Regions from separate parts of the Homo sapiens genome. Here region 2 is linked to region 1. Evidence: fine-mapped expression QTL. A gene starts in region 1. The other region holds a variant in brackets. All regions are shown on one strand. Distances are from middle to middle. Region 1 holds the start of FOLR3 (folate receptor gamma). Region 2 overlaps FOLR1-AS1 (FOLR1 antisense RNA 1).

Region 1 (12,544 bases):
TGTGTCCCTCCAACCCACTCGTCCCGAAATTACAAGACACAAGACACATGTGGATTTGTCTATTAGAATAGGTTGTTGGAAGAACCCCAGAGGACCCTTCTTGGATCAGGAATCAATAATCCCACGAGACGGGGCCCCAGCATTCATGGCCGCAGCATAGAACTTGGCCACCTCCTCATTGGGGTTGCCCTGGGCTGAGTCAAACCACATCTGGATGCAGCGGCCGCTCCCTCGACTATAGTTGCTGACCTTGAAGGAGTGGCTCCAGAGGCCTTCACAAAGGGCGGCTGGAGTGGGGAAGTAGGACTCAAAGGTGCTGCAGAGGGCCCCGGCCGGACACTCATTAATCCCTGAGGGAGGAGAACGTAAGACCCTTAGCTTCTGGGCCAGACCGCACCCCTCCCAACCCCAAAGCCCCACTCCCACTCCTCATCTTATCTCCTCAGGTCCTCACCTGAGGTCCAATTCCAGCCTTTGTGCCAGTTGCTTTTGCAGGTGTAGGAGGTGCGACAGTCCTCCCACCAGCGCTCACAGTCCTCTTTGCACAGGGGCACGTTCAGAATGCGCTCTTTGCGCCAGCTCTGGTTGACCTGAGTGGGGAGGAGACAGAATACTCCTGTCAGCCACGTATCTCAGCAGCTTTACCCTTGAAGGGGACCAGAGCTGTGGGAGGGGGCAGGGCGTCCACCACCCTCAGACCCGAATTCCTGGACCAAGCCCTCCCTGCCAGCAACTGGCAGGCTCCGCCCTCTGCTGAGGTTAATGTTTGTGGGAACAGCACTCATACCTGCCGGATCCAGGGCCCCAGGTTGGGTGAGCACTCATAGAGACAGCTGTCCTGGATAAAGTGGCGCTTGCAGGTGGGTTCCATCTTACCACAGTGATCCCAGTTAAAGTTGTACAGGCGGGAGGTGTCCTTGTGCAGCTCCTGGCTGGTGCTGGCCGTGCAGCAGGCATTCTTCTTCCAGGGACTGCACTGGGTGGGGAAGACACAGGACTAAGTCTCTCCCCACCACAGCCATCTCCTCCATATTCTGGCTCCTCTGCCCCAGGTAGGTCATCCAGAGGAACACTTCCTGGGGAGGGCCCTTGAGGAGCTCCCACCTGGGGACGGAGGCAATTACAATATTGGTGCTTTCCGCCCTATTTATTCATTTATTTATTTGAGACAGGGTCTTGCTCTGTTGACCAGGCTGGAGCGCAGTGGTGTGATCATAGCTCACTGCAGCCTCAACATCCTGGGCTCAAATAATCCTCCCACCTCAGCCTCCCGAGGAGCTGGAATTCAGGCACATGCCACCATGCCTGGCTAATATAAAGTATTTTTGTAGAGATGGGGTCTCACTATGTTGCCTAGGCTGGTCTCAAACTCCTTGGCTCATGTCAGCTTCCCAAAATACTAAGATTAGAGGCGTGAGCCACCATGCCTGCTTAATTTTGGCTTTTAACAGAGGGTAATCCACGGGATATAGGAGATGAGGGAGAGCCACTGTCTGAGAGAGTAATTATTAGTAGTACAGCTCTTAACGGTTTAAAAAGTGATCTCATGTTATTAAACTAACTTTTTTTTGAGACAGAGTTTCGCTCCTGTTGCCCAGACTGGAGTGCAGTGGCGTGATCTTGGCTCACTGCAACCTCCACCTCCCGGGTTCAAGCAATTCTCCTGCCTCAGCCTCCCAAGTAGCTGGGATTACAGGCACGTGCCACCATGCCCAGCTAATTTTGTATTTTTAGTAGAGACGGGGGTTCACCATGTTTGCCAGGCTGGTCTCGAACTCCTGACCTCAGGTGATCCACCCTCCTTGGCCTCCCAAAGTGTTGGGATTACAGGCGTGAGTCACCGCGTTCGGCCTATTTCATGTTATTCAGCTTATTTATATTATTCATTTTGCATCCAGCCAATATTAACTGAGTGCTGATTATACATCAGGCACTGTGCTAGGTCCTAGGAACACCACAGTGAAGAAAACAAATAACACCTCTACCCTCAGGGAGGGTATGGTTTTAGTGGGTGGGTGGGCTGTGTGTAGAAGGGAGACAAAGAACACTCTAGGCATAGAAAACCATAGGTGCAAAGTCCCTGAGGCTTTTGCGCTTTATCCTCTCAACAACCCAGTACGAATCCTTACCCCCATTTTTACAGAGTTTAAGTAAGCTACACCCATGGTAAACAGTGAGGTTAAGATTTAAGGAGGCGGGCGGATCACCTGAGGTTAGAAGTTCGAGACCAGCCTGACCAACACAGAGAAACCCTGTCTCTACTAAAAATACCAAAAAATTAGCCAGGCACAGTGGTAGGCGCCTGTAATCCCAGCTACTCAGGAGGCAGAGGCAGGAGAATCACTTGAACCCAGGAGGCAGAGGTTGCAGTGAGCCAAGATCATGCCATTGCATTCCAGCCTGGGCAACAAGAGCGAAACTCTGCCTCAAATTAAAAAAAAAAAAAATTATAACTGAGGACAGGGAGGAGAGGAACCTGGCCCAGGTTGTGGGGGAGGGTGGAGGTCAAGGGGCTGGTCTGGCTCTCCCAGGGTCTGGAGGTCCAGGTGGGGAGACTCTAGATAGATCCTGAGAGTGGTGGAGAACGAAGGAGCTATAGCCTGCACGTGGGTCTGAACCTAGACTTGACTAAATGTGGAAAAGGCAATCCTAGAAAGGTAAATACAAGGCAGGTAAGACAAGCAGAAATGGTGGAGTTTTTTCTTGGGAAGTCACTCTAGGCCAGGACTCAGAAAACCTGAGAAATCATGAATCAATTGCATAAAATTTCTGGGCTGAACCCTTGCACCTAGGGTCAAGTGATGGCAGAGGCGTGACAGGCCTGAGCACCCAGGAGAAACAATAGGGAAATCCATGGGAGGGGAGCCAGACCTACCCACCTCCCACACCCTGGCCCACGCCCAGTGCCGGCTGACACAGAACATGCTTCCCTGCCAGCCCGACTTCACACTTGCTTTTCCTTGGATGTTCCAACTCTTGGTCTTCCTGCAAGACCCCTTGCACATCATGGGTCTTAGGGTTTGGCAGACATGGGTCCTGCCTGTCAGGGTCAAGGGTTGTTGCCTCCAAAAGAGTTACTGAGTACAATGAGAAGAACTCCCTTGCTATAGTAAGGGCTCAACAAATATCATCACTCTCATATAGCTCATGGCCCTGAGAATGATAGTCATCTGTCTCTCTCAAAGGTCTACATCCACACCATTTCCTGGCAAGGAGGATGTGCTCTAGAAGGTTCTGAAAAGCAAATGAAGTGGTGGGCACAGAGTTTCCATTTCAGTTTTGGAGAATGAAAGAGGTCAGGAGATGGATGGTGGTGATGGTTGCACAACCACATGAGCATACCTAATGCCACTGAACCGTACAGTTAAAAATGGCTAAAGTGGAAAATGTATGTTATGTATTTGTTTTTTTTTTTTAACCCCGATTTAAAAATAAGCAAATGGAATGTTGGGAGTGACTCAGATGTCATGGGGCTTCCAGGCTGTCCTGTCTTCGCTTTAACCCACAGATTGTGTCCACGCCACAGTCTCTCCCTAGGCACATCCCCAGCCCTCTGGGAATGTGAAACCTTGTAGGGAGCAGGCCAGGAGACCAGAGGAATGAAATACAAGCACACTCCTGAGCCTGGAGTTCAAATTGGAGCTCATATTCCCCAAGCTGCCTCAGTGGCCTTACCTGTGGCATGGTGGCCCTGGCCGCCCCTCCCCTTCCTTGTCAGCAGCGGCACCCTTGGTTCTGACCACACTGGACCTGCCATTGCTCGTGCCATCACCCTCTGACCTGTGTGCATGCTGTCCTACACCAGGCTGCCCTCACCTGGCCATACAGCTCGTCCTCGGGGCTGGGCTGTGTCTTGTGGTGCTTGGCGTTCATGCAGACATTGAGCAGGTCCGTCCTGGCCCGCGCACTCCTGGGCTGGGCACTCCCCGCAGCAGTCACCAAAGCCAGAAGCAGCAGCTGCATCATCTGCCAGGCCATGTCCATCTATTCCTGCCAGAGAGCCACAGTCAGAGGTAGACAAGGCCTGAGACAGGGGCAACAGCCATGTGATTGTGTACTCTCTCCCTCCCAGGCCCAGATCTCTGCTGTCCCCACCCTGCATCCCCTACAGGGCAGCTGAGCCAAGAAATGCGCTGCGTGTAGAGGTGAGAGGGAGCCCTTCCCCTACCTGGAGGCAGGACCTCCACCAACAGCGCTGTAGGTCCAGGCTCTGACACCAGCTTGCTCTGTGACCTTGTAGGGAGCCACCGCCCTTGTGGACTTCCCCTCTTGGATTTCTCCAGTGTTTTATGCAATTCTTTTCAAATTTGCACAAGGAGGAACCACAGGTGGTGGCCTGCTGATGCAGGAGTGAGACTCTAGACAGCCTCAGGCTTCTGCTTCCTCAGCCTGTCCTCCTACCCCATGGCAGCTGAGGTTTAGATGCCCAGGGAAGCTGAGATGGGGACAGCAAGGGCCATGGAGCTGTCAGCTATTGTTCATGGTCCCGGAGCAGATGCTGCGGGAGGCAAGGAGGTGGGGGCAATCACACCTCACCCTTCACCCCTTCTGGGTCTTGGGAAATTACCTAGGCAGAGGCAGGCTCAGAGGTTGGGGGAGGCCAACAGGTCAGCGGCAAACGGAGGAGGGGGCTGAGCGAGAACAGTGGGCGCTATCTCGCCTCCCACCTCTCATCCCCACTTTTCCCTCTGTCCTGTTGCAGGGCCTTACCTCCATTCTCAGCCCACCTGGGAAGGTGGAGTCTCTCCCACCTCCCCACCTACTTTATAACCCCATCCTGCCTGCTTGGTTAGACCCTCTGTTCGGGAAGGTGCACAAGGCTTTGTCTAGGAGACAGCTCAATTGTCTTTCAATAAGGACCCAGTTAAATTATGGTACATCTACCCAGTGGAATTTAATGTGGTAACAAAGAAAGAGAAAGCTCCTGATGTACAAATATGGAAAAATCTTCAAGTGCATTGTTAAGTGGAAAAAGAAAGGTGCAGAAAAATGCTATGTAAAAAATAATAATAATAAATTCTCTGTAAAAAAGGAGTAAGAATGTCTGTGTTGACTGGGCGTGGTGGCTCACGCCTGTAATCCCAGCACTGTGGGAGGCCGAGGCAGGCGGATCACTTGAGGTCAGGAGTTCGACATCAGCCTGGTCAATATGATAAAACCCCATCTGTACTAAAAATACAAAAATTAGCTGGGTGTGGTGGCACATGCCTGTAATCCCAGCTACTCAGGAGGCTGAGACAGGAGAATCACTTGAACCCGGGAGGAGTTTGCAGTGAGCCAAGATCACGCCACTGCACTCCAGCCTGGATAACAGAACGTGACTCTGTCATTAAAAAAGAAAAGAATATCTGTGTTTGCAGGTGAAAATTCTGTGGCAAGGTATGAAAAGAAATTAATAACATGGTCACCTGGCAGTAGAGAACAGGATTAGGCTTGAGACTTTTCTCTGTAAACCTTTCCACATTGTTTTGATTTTTGGACCATGTGACTATAAATCTTATTTAAATACATATAGGTATGTGTGTATACATACATAAATATACCAAATATGAAGTGAAAATACTAAGACACAGAATGACCTCTCTGACTTGATAATATGTATGTAAATTTTGATAACACTAGAATGTATACAACAGTACCTTTAAGTTAAGGATACTACACATGTGCTTGCAAAAGTATGAACATGAAGCCACCAAGAGTTCTGGTCCCTGGACATACATCCAGTAAATTCGATGCAGTTACACCATATATATCCCATTTCTGTGCACAAATGGTAGCATACTGTTCTGTACTTTGCTTTTTTGGGTAGTTTCACTATAAATTTATTCTTTTGACAAAAAAACAAAAACCTCATGAACTCAAGTTATCCACAGTTGCACACTTGAGTATTACTGTACATCTGATAACATAACTAAAATTATTTCTTTATGCCTCGTAGGGTCTAAACTTAAAACTATTTCATTAGCCGATATAAAAAAGTTAGTGGGCTGGGTGTGGTGGCTTACACCTGTAATCCCAGCGTTTTGGGAGGTTGAGGTGGATGGATCACTTGATCCCAGGAGTTTGAGACCACTTGGGCAACATAGGAAAACTTCATCTGCACACAAAAATAGAAAAATTAGCCACGTATGGTGGTGCGAGCTTGTAGTTTCAGCCATTTGGGAGGGTGAGCTGGGAGGATTGCTTGAGCCCTGGAGGTCGAGGCTGCAGTGAGCTGTGATGGCACCACTGTACTGTCAGAGTGAGACCCTGTCTCAGCAAAAAAAGAAGAAGGAAAAGGAGAAGGAGAAGAAGAAGAAAGAAGAAGAAGAAGAAGAAGAGGAAGAAGAAGAAGAAGAAGAAGAAGAAGAAGAAGAAGAAGAAGAAGAAGGAGAAGAAGAAGAAGAAGAAATAAGGAAACAAAGAAAGTTAGGAAAGAGAACTTCATGTTTTCAAGTTAAAAGTGCCTAATGCTTGGTTTGTATTTCTCCAACACTCTTGGAGGCAGTAGAACTGCTACTAACCTGGGAAGACGACCGGCACTGCCCCTGTGTATTGCTTATGTAGTGTGAAGTGATGTTTTCCCATTATGATGTTGGGAACATTTCCAATACTGTCATCATTTACTCAGCTAGTAGAGAGCCTCTCCTGAGGCAGAGCCTGTGTTTTCAGTCTGACCTCAGTATCTGGTCCTGCTACAGGTGAGTCTGAGGTGACAAGACCAGTGTCTAGTTATGAAGCCCTTGCCTCCCCAGGGCTCCATTATGGATGAGTCCTGCACCATAGTCAGCAGCCCTCTGCCCTCCCTCCATTGCACCCACCTATGACTCTTCTCTTCTTTTCAATGCCCTCCCCCAACAACCTCTGCCTGTGACTTTGAATGTGTTGTGGGGGTCTTTGCAGAAGAATCGCCCACCTGAGTTTTGGCCAAATTCCTGACTCACAACATCTTGGAATATAATAAAATAGTTACTATTTCAAGCAACTATGTGTATTTGATTTTTAAACTTTTTGTTTTGAAATAATTTTAGATTTGCAGAAAAACTGCAAAACATCGTCAAAAGATTTCCCGTATGTTTTTATGCAACTTCCCCAAATATTGGCATCTTATGTAACCAAAGCCCAGTTCTTAAAAAAATCAGGAAATTAATATTGAGGCAATACTGTTAACTAATCTACAAGCTTTATGCCCTTTACACCAGTTTCCCCCCCAATGTCCTTTCTCTGGCCCAGGATTCAGTCCATGATTCCAGGTTGCATGTAGTTGTCATGTCCCCTTAGTCTCCCTCCAATCTGTGACAGTTCCTCAATGTCTTTGTCTTTTATGACCTTGACACTTTTGGAGAATTACTGTTCAGTTATTTTGCAGAATGTCCCTCAATTTGGGTTTGTCTATATTTTCCTGTAATTAGCTTGAGCTTATGCATTTTGGCAAGAAAATTAGAGAAGAGAGGTGCTTTTGTCAGTGCATCATATCAAGAGGTACATGATGAGGGTTGCTGCATCTTATTGCTGGTGATTATTGGGTTAAGGAGATTTCCTTACTATATAATTATTAGTTTCCCTTTGTTAGTAATCCTACCTTGTAGGGAGACACTCTGAGACTATGTGAATATCCTTTTCATCCACTTAGTTTAACATTGTCTGCAGCAATACACCACAAAATTATGGAATGATTTGTTATGCAGCAACAGACAACTAGTAAACCCATGAGAGTTAGTATTGTGTTTCTTAAACTCTGAGGAAACAATTTGGCTTATAACCTTAGTTTAGCCACACAGCAGTTACTCTTTCTACAACAAAATTCCCAGGAAAAACAGAGTACTTATCATATTAATCTTTAAATTAAATCACTTATAAAAGTGAGTAGTTATAATAGTCAAACTTACTTTACCCTCTGTGAACATTCTGCATGATGGATTTGAGACAGTGGACTGAATAATTGCTCAGGAAATCAGCACTACCTCAGTTACTTTCTGATGGGTCCTCATAGTACAATAAACAGGAGATTTCATAGACAGAAATACGGGCTCTTCAAGGCTTCTTCAATCATGAGAATGTTTCTGAGAAGCTTCTGAGCAAATACTTCTATGGAAGCTGATCACAGATCTGAGGTCTTTGCACTTCATAATTATTCTGTCAATCACAGTCATATTAATTCCTCCTCTGCACATGTATCAATAGCATTACGCCCACAGGGTCCAAAAAGAAAGAGGTATGTCCTCAACCAACGAATTTCTGATATTACAGGCTTCATAAAATTCATGCCCTCCAATCCCAGGCTCCACTATCGTGGCCAAGGCCAGGTCTGGCTGAGTTGCCAATGGTGCTAAAGACTCTACTAAAGATTCAGGTGAATGCCAAGGCCAGCCTTCATCCAAGTGACCAGAATATCTTTAATGAATGTCTGGTTTTCAGTAGCCTCTAGATAAAAGGCACACTGATTTGCTACACCTACAACTATAGCCGTTGCCTTTTTGCTCGTTGTTTTGACCTGAAACTTAATCATGGGCGTGGCCTCTCTTTAAGGCTTTCTATCTCAGGTACCAAAGATGATGGCAAGAACAAAGTGTCTGTCCACTACATCAAAGATCAGATGGTTATCCGAGTCCAGCATCTAGGTGCACTGAGCCCCAGGGAGTCCAGGCAACTGTTGAGGGTAGATGGGCCAATCTTTATTTTACCTTATTTTTTATTTTTAGGAGACAGGGTCTCACTCTGTCACCCCAGCTGGAGTGCAGTGGCACCATCATGGCTCACTGCAGCCTCAACCTCCCTGAGTATCTGGGACTACAGGCACGCACCACCACGCCCAGCTAATTTTTGTATTTTTGTAGAGAGGAGGTTTCGCCATGTTGCCCAGGCTGGTCTTCAACTCTTGGGCTCAAACAATCCTCCAACCTAGGCCTCCCAAAATACTGGGACTACAGGGGTGAGCCACCACGCCCGGCCAAGATGGGCCAATCATGAGTCTTGCCCAAATTCTTGGGCAAAATCTCACAAAATCTTGAAGTATAATTAAACTCACAAAATCTTGAAGTATAAGTAAATAAGTATTGTGTTTTTGTTTTGTTTTGTTTTGAGACAGAGTCTTGCTCTGTCCCCCAGGCTGGAGTGCAGTGGTGTGATCTCAGCTCACTGCAGCCTCTGCCTTCCGGTTCCAGTGATTCTCCTGCCTCATCCTCCCAGGTAGCTGGGATTATAGGCACATGCCACTATGCCAGGCTAATTTCTGTAGTTTCAGTAGAGGTGGGGATTCACCATGTTGGCCAGGCTGGTCTCGAACTCCCGACCTCAGGTTATCGGCCCACTTCAGCCTCCCAAATTGCTAGGATTACAGGCATGAGCCACTGCGCCCAGCCTAATTGGTATTGTTTTAAGACATCAAGTTTATTTGATTTTCTTAACTTAGTGTTTTGAGATAATTTTAGACTTAACAGAAAAATTGCAAAAGTAGTAAAGAGGTTTCCCATATGCTTTCATCCAGTTTCCCCAAATGTTGGCATCTGACAAAACCAAAGCCCAATTACTTAAAAAATCAGGAAATTAACATTAAGGGAATACTTTTAACTAATCTACAAACTTTATTCTTTTTCATCAGTATCCCCACCAATGTTCTTTCTCTGGATGCCATGGCACCAGTCCTCAGGAAGAAGAATAACCCCTAATTCCCTTGCATTTTGATTTCTTTTCTTTTTTCTTTTTCTTTTTGACAGGGTCTCTCTCTGTCACCCAGGCTGGAGTGCAGTGGCATAATCATAGGTCATAGCAGCCTTGACGTCTTGGGCTCAAGTGATCCTCCCACCTCAGCCTCCCAAAGTGCTAGAATTACAGGCATGAGCCACTGTGCCCAGCTCACTTTGCTTGCTTTACTTAACAGAATGTACTATAGATGGTCCCTTATCTGTGTACATAGATCTATATGATTCTATTTCATTATTCTATTGAATTTAAGTGGCTTCTCATATTTCACTGTTATAGTCAATGCTGTAGGGAATGTCCTTGTATAGCCGTCCACCTTTGTATATAATAACATATCTAGTGGAGGGGGAATGTAAAATGGTCCAGATGCTGTGAAAAAAAATTAAACATAGAATTACCATATGATCCAGCAATTCCTCTTGTGCGCACACACCCAAAAGAATTGAAAGCAGGGATGCAAACAGCTATCTGTGCAGTCATATTCACAGCAGCATTAATTCACGATAGCTAAAAGTTGAAAGCAACCCAAGTGTCCACGGATGGATAAATGGATAAACAAAATGTTGTTTCTACAACTGGTCACAGTGAAAGAGTTTTAAGCAGGGGAATGTCACAGTTCAATTGGCAGTCTTGGTGTGTTCAGATGGGATTACGTGTAGGCTGGAATTGGGCAAGGTAGACCAGTTAGAAAGCTGTTTCACAAGTCCAGGCCTGGGATGATGGTGCCTTGACCAGGAGGGTAGAAGTGGGGATTCATTCAAAAACTAAGCTCAGAATTAGTTATTGGGCATCTACCATGTGCTAGGCTGTTCTGGGTTCTAGAGCTACAGAAGTGACCAAGAAAAAGTCCCTACTGTCATAGAGCTGACATTCTAGTTTGGGGGTGGGAGGTTGTTAGAGAGAGACGACAGAAAACAAATAAAGATGATGATTGTGCTCTGAAGAAAACTGAAGCAGGCTAAGGGGACAGAGAGTGATGAAGCAGGGGCTACTATCTTCTACAGGAAAGATCTAGGAGGTGATGCTTGGGCTGATACCATAATGAGGTAAGAAGGGAGTCATGTGAACATGGAGGAAGGAGTGCTCCAGACAGAGGGACCCGTAGGTCCAAAGGCCCTGAAGCAAAAATGTACTCAGTGCATTTCAGGAACAAACAGCGAGGAGGAGGCCAGTGTGGCCAGCAGTGAGCTGGGAGCGGCAGGTGTGGGGTCCAGGCCAGATCTTCAGGGCCCCGTGGTTCAGACTCAGCAAAGATGGGGGATTTTACTCTGAATGAAATGGAAACTTTATTTGCTTTTTCCAGTTCAGCATCTGATCTGACTCTAGGGACAAGGGAAAGCAAACAATTGACACAGATGTCTATGTGAATGGCCCAGCCTTAAGGCAACCATGACTTGAACCAGGGCTATGTGGTGGCAGTGGACGTGGTGAAAAGGGAGGAGTAATGTCATGTCTTTTGAAGGATGTTTTGATAGGATTTGCTGAGATGGAGGACATGAGAGAAAGGGAGGAATTAGGATGACTCCAGAGTGTGTTGGTCTGAGCAATTAGAGAGGAGTGCTTGGCTATTTACTGAGATGAGGAAGGCTGAGAGTGGAATAAGGATGGAGTGAGAAGGGGAAAGAATTGTGAACATGTGGACAGAAGGGTAAAAGTTTTCTGCCAGTCGGGCCTCTGGCCTCTCTCTCCCTGTGCAAAATGTTGAAAGAAATGGTAAAGTTCAAAAGCCAGAAATATTCGTGGCTTGGCATGGCTAAAGTTGGGTACTAAGGGATTTAAAAGGGTTATCTTAAAGAGTGCTCAGCTTAATTAAAAGTGGATATCCAAGCTATAGGTATATTTAAAAGGCCTTTGTGTTTTTTTCTTCATGGATCTTGTTTCTCTGCAAAACAATTTTTTCTCAGTCAACTGAATTATTTTTCCCCAATTTGTCTTGTCACTCTTAACGCATGCATGAGAGGCCCTAAGATAACTTCTGAGAGCATAAGACACCTTGGGAAAAACAGAGAAGTCACCACGGATCCCATTTTGGAAAAAAAAAAAAAAACTCTGTTTTTCTTATAGAACCCCAGGAATTAAAAGCAGATAGACCCCTTTCAAAATCTGTTTTTGTCTTCCAGCTATGCCTGTTTATTAGGCCCTGGAAACTGCATGCTTTCCTAGCTCTGCTTCTTGAAATGCTCCACCCTGAGGCCAATAATCCAATTAGGAGATTGGCAAATGAAAAATCTTACAACTACTGAATCTTCTGTCTGTGTAATCACATATGTGTTATTTGTGTGTGATGTTTATATAAAAAAAGAGCTCTAATTTGCTTAAAGAAAATAAGTGCTTAGATCAAATATTTTTTGAAGGAAAAACAAAAGCTGTATTGCCTTTTAGTTCATGTGACTTTAATCTTTGAGAAAGAAAAACAATTTTGAAGATAATTGGTAAAATACAAATGTTATCAAAATGAAAATATGTGGTCTAATGTATGCAGGTCAGATACTAGGTTTGCTAAATGTTGTAAGGTTATAAACTGCTTCTTTGGCTTTTGAGAACTGTTTGACTTGCCAGCTTTACAATTTGGTAAGGTCTGGGGTCATATGGATTAACCACACCATTAACTATGTTGTAAAGAGTCAGACTTTATCTGTGCCTAGTACATAATTAAAAAAACTTACCAGGTTTTACATTAAAATTAAAAATTGCTAAGAGTTACCATTACAACATGTAATTGAGACTACTGAAAATGGATTTACATGCAAGGGTGAAATTTGACTTTCTCTCGAAGAAGATTTTCATGTAATAATAAAGGATAATGAAAGGTTTTTGCCTTGTTTTAAAATTTTTGAGTCATCATTTTGGCTAAAATAAATAA
Region 2 (12,544 bases), 29 kb before region 1:
AGAAACGCTTGAACTCAGGAGGCGAAGGTTGCAGTGAGCCAAGGTCACGCTACTGTCCTCTGGCCTGGGTGACAGAGTGAGACTCTATCTCAAAATAATAATAATAATAATAATAATAATAATAATAATAAACAAATTTCTTCCACCAGATAGCCTAAACCATCTCTCTCGAGTTCAAAGTTCTGCAAATCTCTAGGGCAGGGACAAAATGCTGCCAGTCTCTTTGCTAAAACATACAAGAGTTACCTTTGCTCCAGTTCCCAACAAGTTCCTCATCTTCATCTGAGACCACCTCAGCCTGGACCTTATTGTCCATATCACTATCAGGCTTTTGGTCAAGGCCCTTCAACAAGTCTCTAGGAAGCTCCAGACTTTCCCACATTTTCCTGTCTTCATCTGAGCGCTCCAAACTGTTCCAACCTCTGCCTGTTCCCCAGTTCCAAAGTCGCTTCCACATTTTTGGGTATCTTTTCAGCAATGCCCCACTCCCAGTACAAATTTACTGTATTCATCTGTTTTCACGCTGCTGATAAAGACATATGCAAGACTGGGCAATTTACGAAAGAGGTTTATTGGATTTACAGTTCCACATGGCTGGGGAGACCTTACAATCATGGTGGAAGGCAAGGAGAAGCAAGTCACATCTTATGTGGATGGCACCAGGCAAAGAGAGAGCTTGTGCAGAGAAACTCCCGTTTTTAAAACCATCAGATCTTGTGAGACCCATTCATTATCATGAGAACAGCACGGGAAAGACCCACCTCCACGATTCAATCATCTCCCACCAGGTCCCTTTCACAACACATGGGAGTTATGGGAGCTACAAGATGAGACTTGGGTGGGGACACAGAGCTAAATCATATCACTGTACATCTAATAACATAACTTTAAAGTTATTTCTTTATGCCTTGTATGTATAAACTTAAAGCTCATTAGCCAATATAAAAAACATTAGGGGGCCGTCCTTGGTGGCTCATGCCTATAATCCCAGTGCTTTGGGAGGCCAAGGCTGATGGATTGCTTGAGCCCAGGAGATCAAGACCAGCCTGGGAAACATAGGGAGACCTCATCTTCACACAAAAATACAAAAATTAGTTGGGTATGGTGGTCTAAGCCTATAGTCCCAGCCATTTGGGAGGATGAGCTGGGAGGATTGCTTGAGCCCAGGAGGTCAGGGCTGCAGTGAGCTGTGATGGCATCCCTGCACTCCAGCCTGGGTGACAGAGTGAGATCCTGTCTCGGAAAAAAAAAAAAAAAAGAAAGAAAGAAAAAAGTTAGGAAAGAGAACTTCATGTTTTCAAGTTAAAAGTGCCTGATCCGGCTGGGTGCAGTGGCTCACACCTTTAATCCCAGCACTTTGGAAGGCCAAGTCAGGGGTATCACCTGAGGTCAGGAGTTCAAAACCAACCTGGTCAACATGGTAAAACCCCATCTCTACTAAAAAAAAAAAAATACAAAAATTAGCCGGGCATGGTGGCACATACCTGTAATCCCAGCTACTCAGGATGTTGGGGCAGGAGAATCGCTTGAATCCAGGAGGTGGAGGTTGCAGTGAGCCAAGATCTCACCACTGCATTCCAGCTTGGGCAACAGAGCAAGATCCTGTCTCAAAAAAAAATAAAGTTGGTTTGTAATAAGCTATAGGACTCTGACAGGTGCTCTCAAATACAGGTTTCTGATAACTTTGGAGACTGTGATATTGGAATAAAGGAAAATGTACAGGACTCATGAAGAGCTAAAATGTTCACGAATATCAAGCATAACAAGAACTGAATGGACTGAACTCAGAAAGCTGAAGCAACCTTTTTGACTTTTGCTTGGAATATTGCTGATCCTTGTTTTGTTTCTCAGAGTCAAGGAAAATTATTTTGAACTCTTTAAGGCCTTTAATACTAGAGTAAGCTACACTCCTGTGAACAAAATTTGAAGCATATTTTTCTCTCTCTCTGCCTGGCTTCTCCAGAATTTGGAAATTATCCGTGAGTATTCTTTTTTTTTTTTTTTTGAGGCAGACTCTTGCTCTGTCGCCAAGCTGGAGTGCAGTGGCATGATCTCGGCTCACTGCAACCTCCGCCTCCCAGGTTCAAGTGATTCTCCTGCCTCAGTTTCCCAAATAGCTGGGACTACAGGCACTTGCCACCACACCCAGCTAATTTTTTGTATTTTAAGTAGAGACAGGGTTTCACCATGTTGGCCAGGCTGGTCTCGAACTCCTGACCTCCGGTGATCCGCCCACCTCGGCCTCCCAAGGTGCTAGGATTACAGGTGTGAGCCACCACGCCTGGCCAAGAATGTCACTTTCTAACAGGTCTAGGAGCTCCAAATTTGTCATGGGACCTTAACACGAGAAGATCATCCAACTTACAGGTATTTGAGGATACAAATCCATGGCTGGGCTCAGTTTTAAAACGTTTTGTCTGAAATTCCTTGAAGAACAGAGTTCCATCAAAGCCAATCTAAAAGACTTATGTAGAAATAGTTATTCTTGCTGCACTTTATGCAAATAATCAGGCCAAGTATATGACTAAAGTCTATTTTGCAAACAACTCAATCCTACCATAATTTGCTTTTTTAACAAAAATGAGGACTGGAGAGAGAGAAATTATGTTTCAAAACACCATACATTTGTCAATAAATTCTAAAGTCATTAGTGTTTAAGTTTTTGCCTACATTTTTAGGCTAACACTCCTTGTTCCTGTGAACCAACCAGCAATCTCCAGCTGCAGCTCAGAAAGAAGGAGAGGATGGGTAATGTAAAAATCTGGATCAATATTTTAGTTCTGAGCAATTATCCTGCAAATCCTGCCAGGTGATGGGAATAAATAGGATGCCCATTAATCGGAGGTTTCCTTTTTTGGAAAGTAAGAGCTAACCAAAGCCAAGCACCATGCACCCAAATCCTAGCTTACATAACTATAGCCACCAATTATCTGGGCATGTCACAAGACATCTTTTTCTCTCCCTTGTTGGAGGAGGACTCAATTCTGCAGCTTCACCTTCCTTAGCATTTGGCTTATGATAAGGAGTCCATGCAGCCCTTCCTAGACACATATTTTTGTTTCAAATTCTATTCCAAGCTTTGAGTCAAAGCCCCAGGAAAGAAAACTGGATCTAAGGGATTCAGAGGCAGATGATAACAGGGGTTAAAAGGCACAGTGCAAGGCCGGGCACAGTGGCTCACACCTGTAATCCCAGCACTTTGGGAGGCCAAGGCGGGCAGATCATGAGGTCAGGAGATCGGGACCATCCTGGCAAACACGGTGAAACCCCGTCTCTACTAAATATACAAAAATTAGCCAGGCATGGTGGCATGCACCTGTAATCCTAGCTACTTGGGAGGTAGAGGCAGGAGAATCGCTTGAACTGGGAGGTGGAGGTTGCAGTGAGCTGAGATCATGCCACTGCACTCCAGACTGGGCGACAGAGCAAGACTCCATCTCGAAAAAAAAAATACAAAAATTAGCTGGGCATGGTGGTGCGTGCCTGTAATCCCAGCTACTCAGGAGGCTGAGGCAGGAGAATCACTTGAACCAGGGAGTCGGAGGTTGCAGTGAGCCGAGTTCACTCCACTGCACTTCAGCCTGGCAACAGAGCGAGACTCTGTCTCAAAAAAAAAAAAAAAAAAAAAAAAAAAAAAGGCACAGTGCGTGCAAGTGAGCATGGCTAATTCCTGCCAATCAAGCCAAGCCTCCCATTTCATGGATAAAGGTCATGCTAGTATCCATGGCATATGTAGGGGTGGGTTGCCCCTACACACCTGTGGGTGTTTCTCGTAAGGTGGGACGAGAGATTTGGAAAAGAAAAAGACACAGAGACAAAGTATAGAGAAAGAAATAAGGGGACCCTGGGAACCAGCGTTCAGCATATGGAGGATCCCGCCAGCCTCTGAGTTCCCTTAGTATTTATTGATCATCTGTGGGTGTTTCTCAAAGAGGGGGATGTGTCAGGGTCACAAGACAATTGTGGGGAGAGGGTCAGCAGACAAACACGTGAACAAAGGTCTTTGCATCATAGACAATGTAAAGGATTAAGTGCTGTGCTTTTAGATATGCATACACATAAACATCTCAATGCTTTACAAAGCAGTATTGCTGCCCGCAGGTCCCACCTCCAGCCCTAAGGCGGTTTTTCCCTATCTCAGTAGATGGAGCATACAATCGGGTTTTATACCGAGACATTCCATTGCCCAGGGACAGGCAGGAGACAGATGCCTTCCTCTTGTCTCAACTGCAAGAGGCATTCCTTCCTCTTTTACTAATCCTCCTCAGCACAGACCCTTTACGGGTGTCGGGCTGGGGGACGGTCAGGTCTTTCCCTTCCCACGAGGCCATATTTCAGACTATCACATGGGGAGAAACCTTGGACAATATCTGGTTTTCCTAGGCAGAGGTCCCTGCGGCCTTCCGCAGTTTTTGTGTCCCTGGGTACTTGAGATTAGGGAGTGGTGATGACTCTTAAGGAGCATGCTGCCCTCAAGCATCTGTTTAACAAAGCACATCTTGCACCGCCCTTAATCCATTCAACTCTGAGTTGACACAGCACATGTTTCAGAGAGCACAGGGTTGGGGGTAAGGTTATAGATTAACAGAATCTCAAGGCAGAAGAATTTTTCTTAGTACATAACAAAATGGAGTCTCCTATGTCTACTTCTTTCTACACAGACAGAGTAACAATCTGATCTCTCTTGCTTTTCCCCACAGCATAAATGAGGTCTAGGAAACTCCAAGACTACTGACTGTAGGGGGTATAGAAACATAGGTAAGAGCGGATAATTCCTATTCTCTCTTTTTTTTTCCCCGAGATGGAGTCTTACTCTGTTGCCCAGGCTGGAGTGCAGTGGTGTGATCTTGGCTCACTGCAACCTTTGCCTCCTGGGACCAAGTGATTCTCCTGCCTCAGCCTCCCGAGTAGCTGGGACTACAGGCATGCACCACCACACCCAGCTAAGTTTTGTATTTTTAGTAGAGACGGGGTTTCACCATGTTGGCCAGGCTGGTCTCAAACTCCTGAAATCATGATCTGCCCACCTCGGCCTCCCAAGGTGCTGGGTTGTACAGGCGTGAGCCACTGAGTCTGGCTGATAATTCCTATTCTCTAGGTACTCCCTGCTTCATGGGTGCAAGCTGCTGTGGCACCCATGGCAGCACCTGCCAAGGTCACCAGGACTTGGGTATGCAAGGACAGAAGAGGGAAAGAGGACGCTCTTCCTTCTCTCCCTCATGTACCCCTGGTATCTGCTAGAAAGAGATAGGAGACAGGGATGCCTGCTCCCCTCTTTCTAGATGGGTAGCCATTCATCTTCACTCTGTACCCCTTTTGAATGCATGCTGAACCCCTGGGACTCCTTTAAAAAGCACCTTTTTTTCCTTTCTTCTCCACTGTCTTCTCTTCACTAATAGGTAATTGTGTCTTTGTACTATAGGACACTCCCCTCAGATGCATCCTCCAAACTGGAAAGAGTTAATTTCCCAAACCTTCAGCTGGTTGGCTTAGGATTGGGCTCAGAGGAAGGGAACCCACAAGCATGACATGCTGGCAAAAGGGTAAAGTTTTTTTTACCAGTCGGGCTTTTGGTTTCCCTCTCCCTGTGCAAACTGGTAAAAGGCCTAGGGATTTTAAGCTGTCCTTACCCTCCCTTGTTTCGTTTTAACACATGTTTTCTAATAACCTGGTTTTTCTCCTCTTGCCTTCAGGCCATCAAACTCCAAATGGTCGTGCAACCGGAGCCTCGGAAGATGGCGCCTTCTGCCGGGAACCCTTAGATAGGCTTCTGAGGGAGCTCTGACTGCCGTTTCCCAAAACACCGCTCCCTGTTAGCAGGAAGCAGTTTAGATCGGTCTTCGTCCTCACCCCTATCCTTGTTCTAACAGTAGTTTGATGTACTTCTTGAGAGGGGGGAATGAGACAGCCAAGTGTAAAGGGGTCCCCAGAGAACCTCTGACAAACCCGCACACTGGGAGGAATGTGCACTGGGGTGGAGCCTCTGGAAGTTCGTGCTGAGGAGCCTGGCCCCTCCTCTTCCAGGGTGGAACCTGGGATTCAACCTGAGAGGTGGGAAGCGTGTACTAGCAGGACTCTCACTCTGCCGAGGGTCCCCGTTTCCCCGCTTTTTTTTTT[TG/G]CCCAATAAATTCCATTTTTCTCACCCTTCAAAGTGTCTGCAAGCCTAATATTTCATGGCCAGGTGACAAGGACCCTGTCTTTGGCTGAACTGAGGAGAAACTCCTACAACATTACCATCCAGCAATTCCTATTTTTTTTTTTTTTTTTTTTTGAGACAGGGTCTCACTCTATCAACCCAGGCTGGACTGCAGTGGCACAGTCATAGCCCACTGCAGCCTCTACCTCCTGAGCTAAAGAGATCCTCCCATCTCAGCTTCCTGCATAGCTAGGACTACAGGCGTGGACCACCACACTGGGCTAAATTTTTTGTATTTTTATGTAGAGACGGGGTTTCACCATGTTGCCCAAGCTGTTCTAGAATCCCTGGCTCAAGTGATCTACCTGCCTTGGCCTCCCAAAGTGCTGGAATTACAGGTATGAGCCACCATGCTTGGCTTCCAACCAATATTTTAAAGTTCATGATGGGAATGGAGTTTGTCTCAGATGATAGATTTTTATGGAGCCACATGCCAATTTCCTTAGAATACTTTCCCTCATGGATACACCCCACAGAAACTCAGAATCATCCCCTCAATTCTTATCCCCCCTCATGCCCATTTACAATTAATCCCTGTTGTCACTTCCAGCCCCAGGCAACTACTAATCTACTTTCTGCCTCTATAAATTTGCCTTCCCTGCACATTTCATGTAAGTGAAATCATGCCACATGAAGCCTCTTAGGTCTGGCTTCTTTCACTTAACATAATGTTTTTGACGCTCATCCACGACATAGCATGTGTCATCACGTTTCATTGCTGCACAGTCTTCTATTGTATGGATTCACCACATTTTGTCTATCTACTCACCAGCTGCTAAAAATTTAGGTTATTGCCAGCTTGGGGCTATTATATATAATGATACATAATATGATATATCATATTTACATACATAAATGATACATCATATTTACATACATAAATATGATTATTATTAATATTCATATTTAAGTTTTGTTATGTTTGTTTTCGTTTCTCCTGAGTAGACACCTGGGAGTGGAATTTTGGGTTGTATGGCAGTTTTACATTTAACTTTTTGAGAAACTGCCACACTGTTTTCCGAAGGGCTGTACCATTTTACATCCCCACCAGCACTGTGTGAGGGTTCCCATTTCTCCACATCCTTGCCAATGCTTGTTATTGCCTATCATTATTATTATTGCCATTCTAGTAGGTATAAAACCGTCTATCACTATGGTTTTAGTTTCCATTTTTCTAATGATTAATAATGTTGAGCATCTTTTCGTGTAACTATTCATAATTTGTGTACCTTCTTTAATGACATATTTGTTCATTTCTTTTGCCCATTATTTGATTGGGTTGTCTGCCTTCTTGTTACTGAGTTGTAAGTGTTCTTTGTATTTTATGGATACAGATCCTTTATCAGATGTGTTTGCAAATATTTCCTTCCAGTCTGTTGCTTGTTTTTTAATTTTCTTAAGGGTGTCTTTTAAAGTGCAAGAGTTTTGAATTTTGTTAATATCCAATTATTAGCTTTTGCATTGATCAACTATGCTTTCGGTTCAAAAAAGAAATCAGTGGGCTGGCAGAGGTGTCTCACGCCTCTAATCCCAGCACTTTAGGAGGTCAAGGTGGGTGAATGAATCACTTGGGCGCAGCAGTTCAAGACCAGCTTGGGCAACATGGCAAAACCCCATCTCTACAAAAAAAATACAAAACATTTGCCCAGCATGGTGGCATGTGCCTGTAGTCCCAGCTACTTGGGAGGCTAAAGTTGAGGGATCAATTGAGCTCAGGAGGTCAAGACTGCAGTGAGCCATGACTGTGCCACTGCACTCCAGCCTGAGCAACAGAAAGAGACCCTGTCTCAAAAAATAAAAATAATAAATAGAAATAAATGAAGGGCGAAAAGGCATCAATTGGCCTTGTTTACAAGACTAGCCAGGGCGGTCATCAGTGGATTGCTCCACTTTTCAGGTTGATGTAGTTATTTGCATATGTATAGAGAGTTGGTCCTCCTTCTTACTAGGATCTAACCAAAAAATTAAATTTGTAACTATGACCATGCCAGAAACAGAAATCTACGAGAAAATAATGAAGTCTTTTTACTCATGATTAGGTCTGTTGCAAACCTTGTGATTCCCCTCTCCTTGCAAGTACATGATAGGATTATGTTTTCCTGGCTTTCTTGAATTTAGGCATGCTCATGACTTGATTTGGCCAATGAAATAAGTGATGGGTGGAAATTTGAAGAGCCTTATGGAATTTGCCAAGTTCCCTCTTCCTGTCTCATGGAAGATGGAGCCTCCATCAGCGTGGGTTCTTGAGTGAGAAGCAGAACCCCCTGGCTGCTAATGTAGTCCAGGAATGAGAAATAAACAGAATCCCCCTGATAACCCACATTCAGCATTGTAGCTTGAGCAAGAAATAAACATGACTTGTGGCCAGATGCAGTGACTCATGCCTGTAATCCCAGCATTTTGGGAGGATCACTCCAGCGCAGGAGTTTGAGAACAACCTGGGTAAAATAGTGAGACCCTGTCTCTACTATTACATATATAATACATGTTTTATATTATATGTATTAGCTGAATGTGGAGGCTCACACCTGTAGACCCAGCTACTCAGGAGGCTGAGGTAGGAGGATTGCTTGAGCCCAGTAGTTTGAGACCAGCCTGGACAACATTGCAAGATTTCCTCTCTACAAAAAATTGAAAAATTAGCCAGGTGTGGTGGCACATGCTTGTAGTCCCAAGTATTTGGGATGCTGAGGTGGGAGGATCACTTGAGCCCACGAGGCAGACGTTGCAGTGAGCTGAGATCATGCCACTCCATTCCAACCTGGGTGAGAGAGTGAGACCCTGTCTCAAAAAAAGAAAAATGCCTGGGCTTGGCTCTAAATTGGAGCTATAGTGAATAATAAAATCGAGAGCTACAAATGTCTCCTACCTTAGAAGAATACTTAAGTATCAGGCTAGTTCATAGCAAGCATCAGAGCTGGGAACTAGCCCAGTCTAACTGGCTTCAATCAATAAGAAATGGGAAACAAAACAGCCACATTCCCATTCATACCCAAATAATTCTCAAGATACATGTGTGGTGTCTGGTTTATTCAAAGTGGCTGTCAGAGACAAGACCATAGAAGAGGAACCAAATAGTTGGGAGCTGTGGGGCTAAACAGGGCAGGGATGTCCAAGTATCAGAAGGTAAAAGGAGGTCAGCTGAGCAGCCACAGCAGCATTAGGGCCAGGTTGAGCAGGAGAGGCCAGGCTGCCCAGGGCCCAGCCCCACTCAGAGCTGCAGCATAGAACCTTGCCACCTCCTCATTGGGGTTGCCCTGGGCCAGGTCGAACCACATCTGGATGCAGCGGCTGCTCCCTCGGTTGTAGTTGCTGACCCTGTAGGAGTGAGTCCAGATTTCACTGCACAGAGCAGTGGGTGTGAGAAAGTAGAGATGGAAAGGTAGTCAGGCAGCTGCCACCTGGCACTTGTTAGACCCTGTAGGGAAGAGGGAAGACCTTTAGCCACTGGGCCCCAAAGGGTCTCTGATTCTGCCAGCCCTACAACCCCAAAATGTCACACACCTGTTCCACACCCACACACCTTCACTTCCAAATCCCTCCTTTCCTGCCCACCCCAGCCCTCACCTGAGGTCCAGTTCCAGCCCTTGTGCCCATTGCTCTTGCAGGTGTAGGAGGTGCGACAATCTTCCCACCATTGCTCACAGTCCTCTTTGCACAGGGGCACATTCAGCACCCACTCTTTGCGCCAGCTCTGATCCACCTGGGAGATTTTGGTAGAAAAGAAGGGCTCAGGCTCAAGAATCCCAGGAACCCAGCCCTGAATAGAACTGGAGCTGGGGTTGCTGCCTGCAGAGACGCCTGGAAAATTCAGCTCCTCTGCTAGCTCTTGGATGCCAGGAAGCCATGCGTACCTGCTGGATCCAGGGCCCCAAGTTGGGGGGTCACTCGTAAAGGCAGGTGTCCTGGATAAAGTGCCGTTTGCAGGCAGGTACCATCTCTCCACAGTGGTTCCAGTTGAATCCATATAGATGGGAATATTCTTATGGGCTTCCTGGGTGGTGCTGGTAAAGCTCAGGCATTCTTTCTCCAGAGACTACACTGGATGCGGGAAGACACAGGACTAAGTCCACAGCCAGCACAGCCAGAATATTCCACACCCAGCCTCTCCCCTTTCAATCCTTAATCCCCAACCCAGTGGAAGTCATCCAGGAAAGTCCTTGCTGTTGGTAAACTCTTTGTGGGAGAGGGCTGTCAGAGACTGTGGAAGCCCGGAAGACAGCTCCTGTCTGGAGGTGCAGTCATTACAAAATTCGTTAATTCAGCTTTTATAGAGATCCTACATACTCTTACCCAGGCACTTTTCTAGTAACTGGGGTTACAAAAATGAGCACCTCAATGGATCACTGCTTTTGAAAACAATCAGGGGAGAAGGATGTCTCATACATTTTAGGGAAGCATGAGACATCAATCAAATGCATTTAAGGAATACATTGGCCAGGCACGGTGGCTCACGCCTGTAATCCCAGCACTTTGGGAGGCCAAGGCAGGCTGATCTTGAGGTCAGGAGTTTGAGACCAGCCTGGCCAACATAGTGAAACCCTGTCTCTACTAAAAATACAAAAAATTAGCTGGACGTGGTGACAGGCACCTGTAATCCTAGCTACTCAGGAGGCTGAGGTAGGAGAATTGCTTCAACCCAGGAGGCGGAGGTTGCAGCGAGCCGAGATCACACCACTGCACTCCAGCACGGGCGGCAGAGGGAGACTCCATCTAAAAAAAAAAAAAAAAATCATTGGTTTGGTCCAGGAAGGTGGGACAATTCAAAGTGGGGTGGCAGGGCTTTCAGGCTATACGTAAATTTAAACATTTTATGGTTGACAATTGGTTGAGTTTGTCTAAAGACCTGGGGTTGATAGAAAAGAAATGTTAAGATAAAAGACTGTGGAGACCAAGGTTCTTTTGAAGTCTTATAGTGGCTGCCCTTAGAAACAACAGATGACAAGTGTTTCCTATTCAGATCTATAAAAGGTGCTACACTTAGTTAATCTCTTTATGATTGGAAGGGCCTGGTAGAAAAAGATCCAGCTATGTTAATAGAGATTCTTTACAGATGAAAATTTTCCCCCACAAAGGACAGTAGCAGGGCCATTTCAAGATATGGCAAAGAAACATGTTTTGAGGTAAAAATATTAAAATATTTTGCTTTTCTTCCTTGTCTCGTCATGTTATGCCAGAGTCAGGTTGGAAAGTAAGTCATGATATATAGGGTTAAATAAAACCCATCTGATGAGAATTTATGATTTGTAGGGCATGACTCCCCAGACCCCTTAGATAGGAATTTTGGCAAGATAAAAAAAAATCATTGGATTTAGTCCTCGTTGAGGTGATAACCATTCGGAGGTGAGAAAGTAAGTTAAATTGTAACCCCAGAAGAGTTCCGATTACATAAACACTCAATACATACTTATTGAATGAATGAAAGCCCACGGCCTAGAATTTGGTATAAAGCTTGAGAAAAGAAAAATAGCTCAGAGCAGTCTCATGATGTGAGACATGCCCAATTTATCAGGCCCAGAAAGGCATGAGTATGGAACTTCAGTCACACCCTCCCCACCCATGCCCAGAGACAATTGTTCCAAGGCGTTTTGTCCCTGACTAGCTGCCTCACCCGTTATCTGTTCCTGGAATTTGTGATACAAAAAACAATGTATAGCCAATGAATTGCTTATGTTATTTTATTTTAAATTCTTGATAAACAACTTAGGAACTATTCTGTTTCCTTAAAAACTCACTTGTAACTGCTGTGAATCGAAGTGTATATTCAGGACAACTTGAATCTATGCTTCTGTGTAGCTATCCTCAAGCTTTCTGGATCTCGTTACTTAAGGCTGACAAGCTAAACATTAAAATGTGCACTTAAAAAATATATAAAAGCCCAGGCACAGTGGTTTACACCTATAATCCCAGTACTTTGGAGGCCAAGGTGGGAGGATCACTTGAGTGCAGGAGTTTGAGGTCAACTGGGACAACATAGTGAGACCTCATGTCTAAAAAGAGATAAAAATAAAAAAAAATAAAAATATAAAAAATAAAAGAATAAGTTAAAGTCAGAGCTGCTCAAGGTATACAGGTTATTTACCTCTTGTTAGTCTGCACTTGGCAGCTACAGGCTCACTGATTCAAAACAAGTGCAAACAGGGCAGTGACTGCTATCTGCTAATGGAGTCAAAACGAATATAAATAGAAATCCATATTACAAATTACTTTTCCTCTGTTTCTTCTTTAGTTATATTTGAATATGGATTTTTAAAATAACTGTTTAGCTAAGTTCAGGATATTAAAGGGGTTGTAGCCAAATAATTGTTATAGGCAGACCTCATGTCCAGTGGGATTGAGAGACACAGA

The links.
Region 2: its variant is fine-mapped to the expression of FOLR3 in monocytes (Quach 2016, PIP 0.93).

What each region holds. Positions count from the first base shown.
Region 1 is chr11:72,127,393-72,139,936 of GRCh38, reverse strand. It overlaps FOLR3 (folate receptor gamma), which reads right to left and starts at 4,212. Exons shown (of 5, transcript NM_000804.4): 1 at 4,169-4,212; 2 at 3,817-3,990; 3 at 788-976; 4 at 455-590; 5 at 45-350. The coding sequence starts at 3,984. The coding sequence ends at 106. It also overlaps the pseudogene RPEP6. RefSeq lists an enhancer at 603-1,106.
Region 2 is chr11:72,156,529-72,169,072 of GRCh38, reverse strand. It overlaps FOLR1-AS1 (FOLR1 antisense RNA 1), which reads left to right. Exons shown (of 3, transcript NR_199595.1): 3 at 5,694-5,751. It also overlaps the pseudogene FOLR1P1. Among named protein-coding and RNA genes, the nearest start is that of FOLR3, 27 kb to the right of the region's middle. RefSeq lists an enhancer at 3,538-4,347. The variant TG/G (reference allele first, on the strand shown) is at 6,118.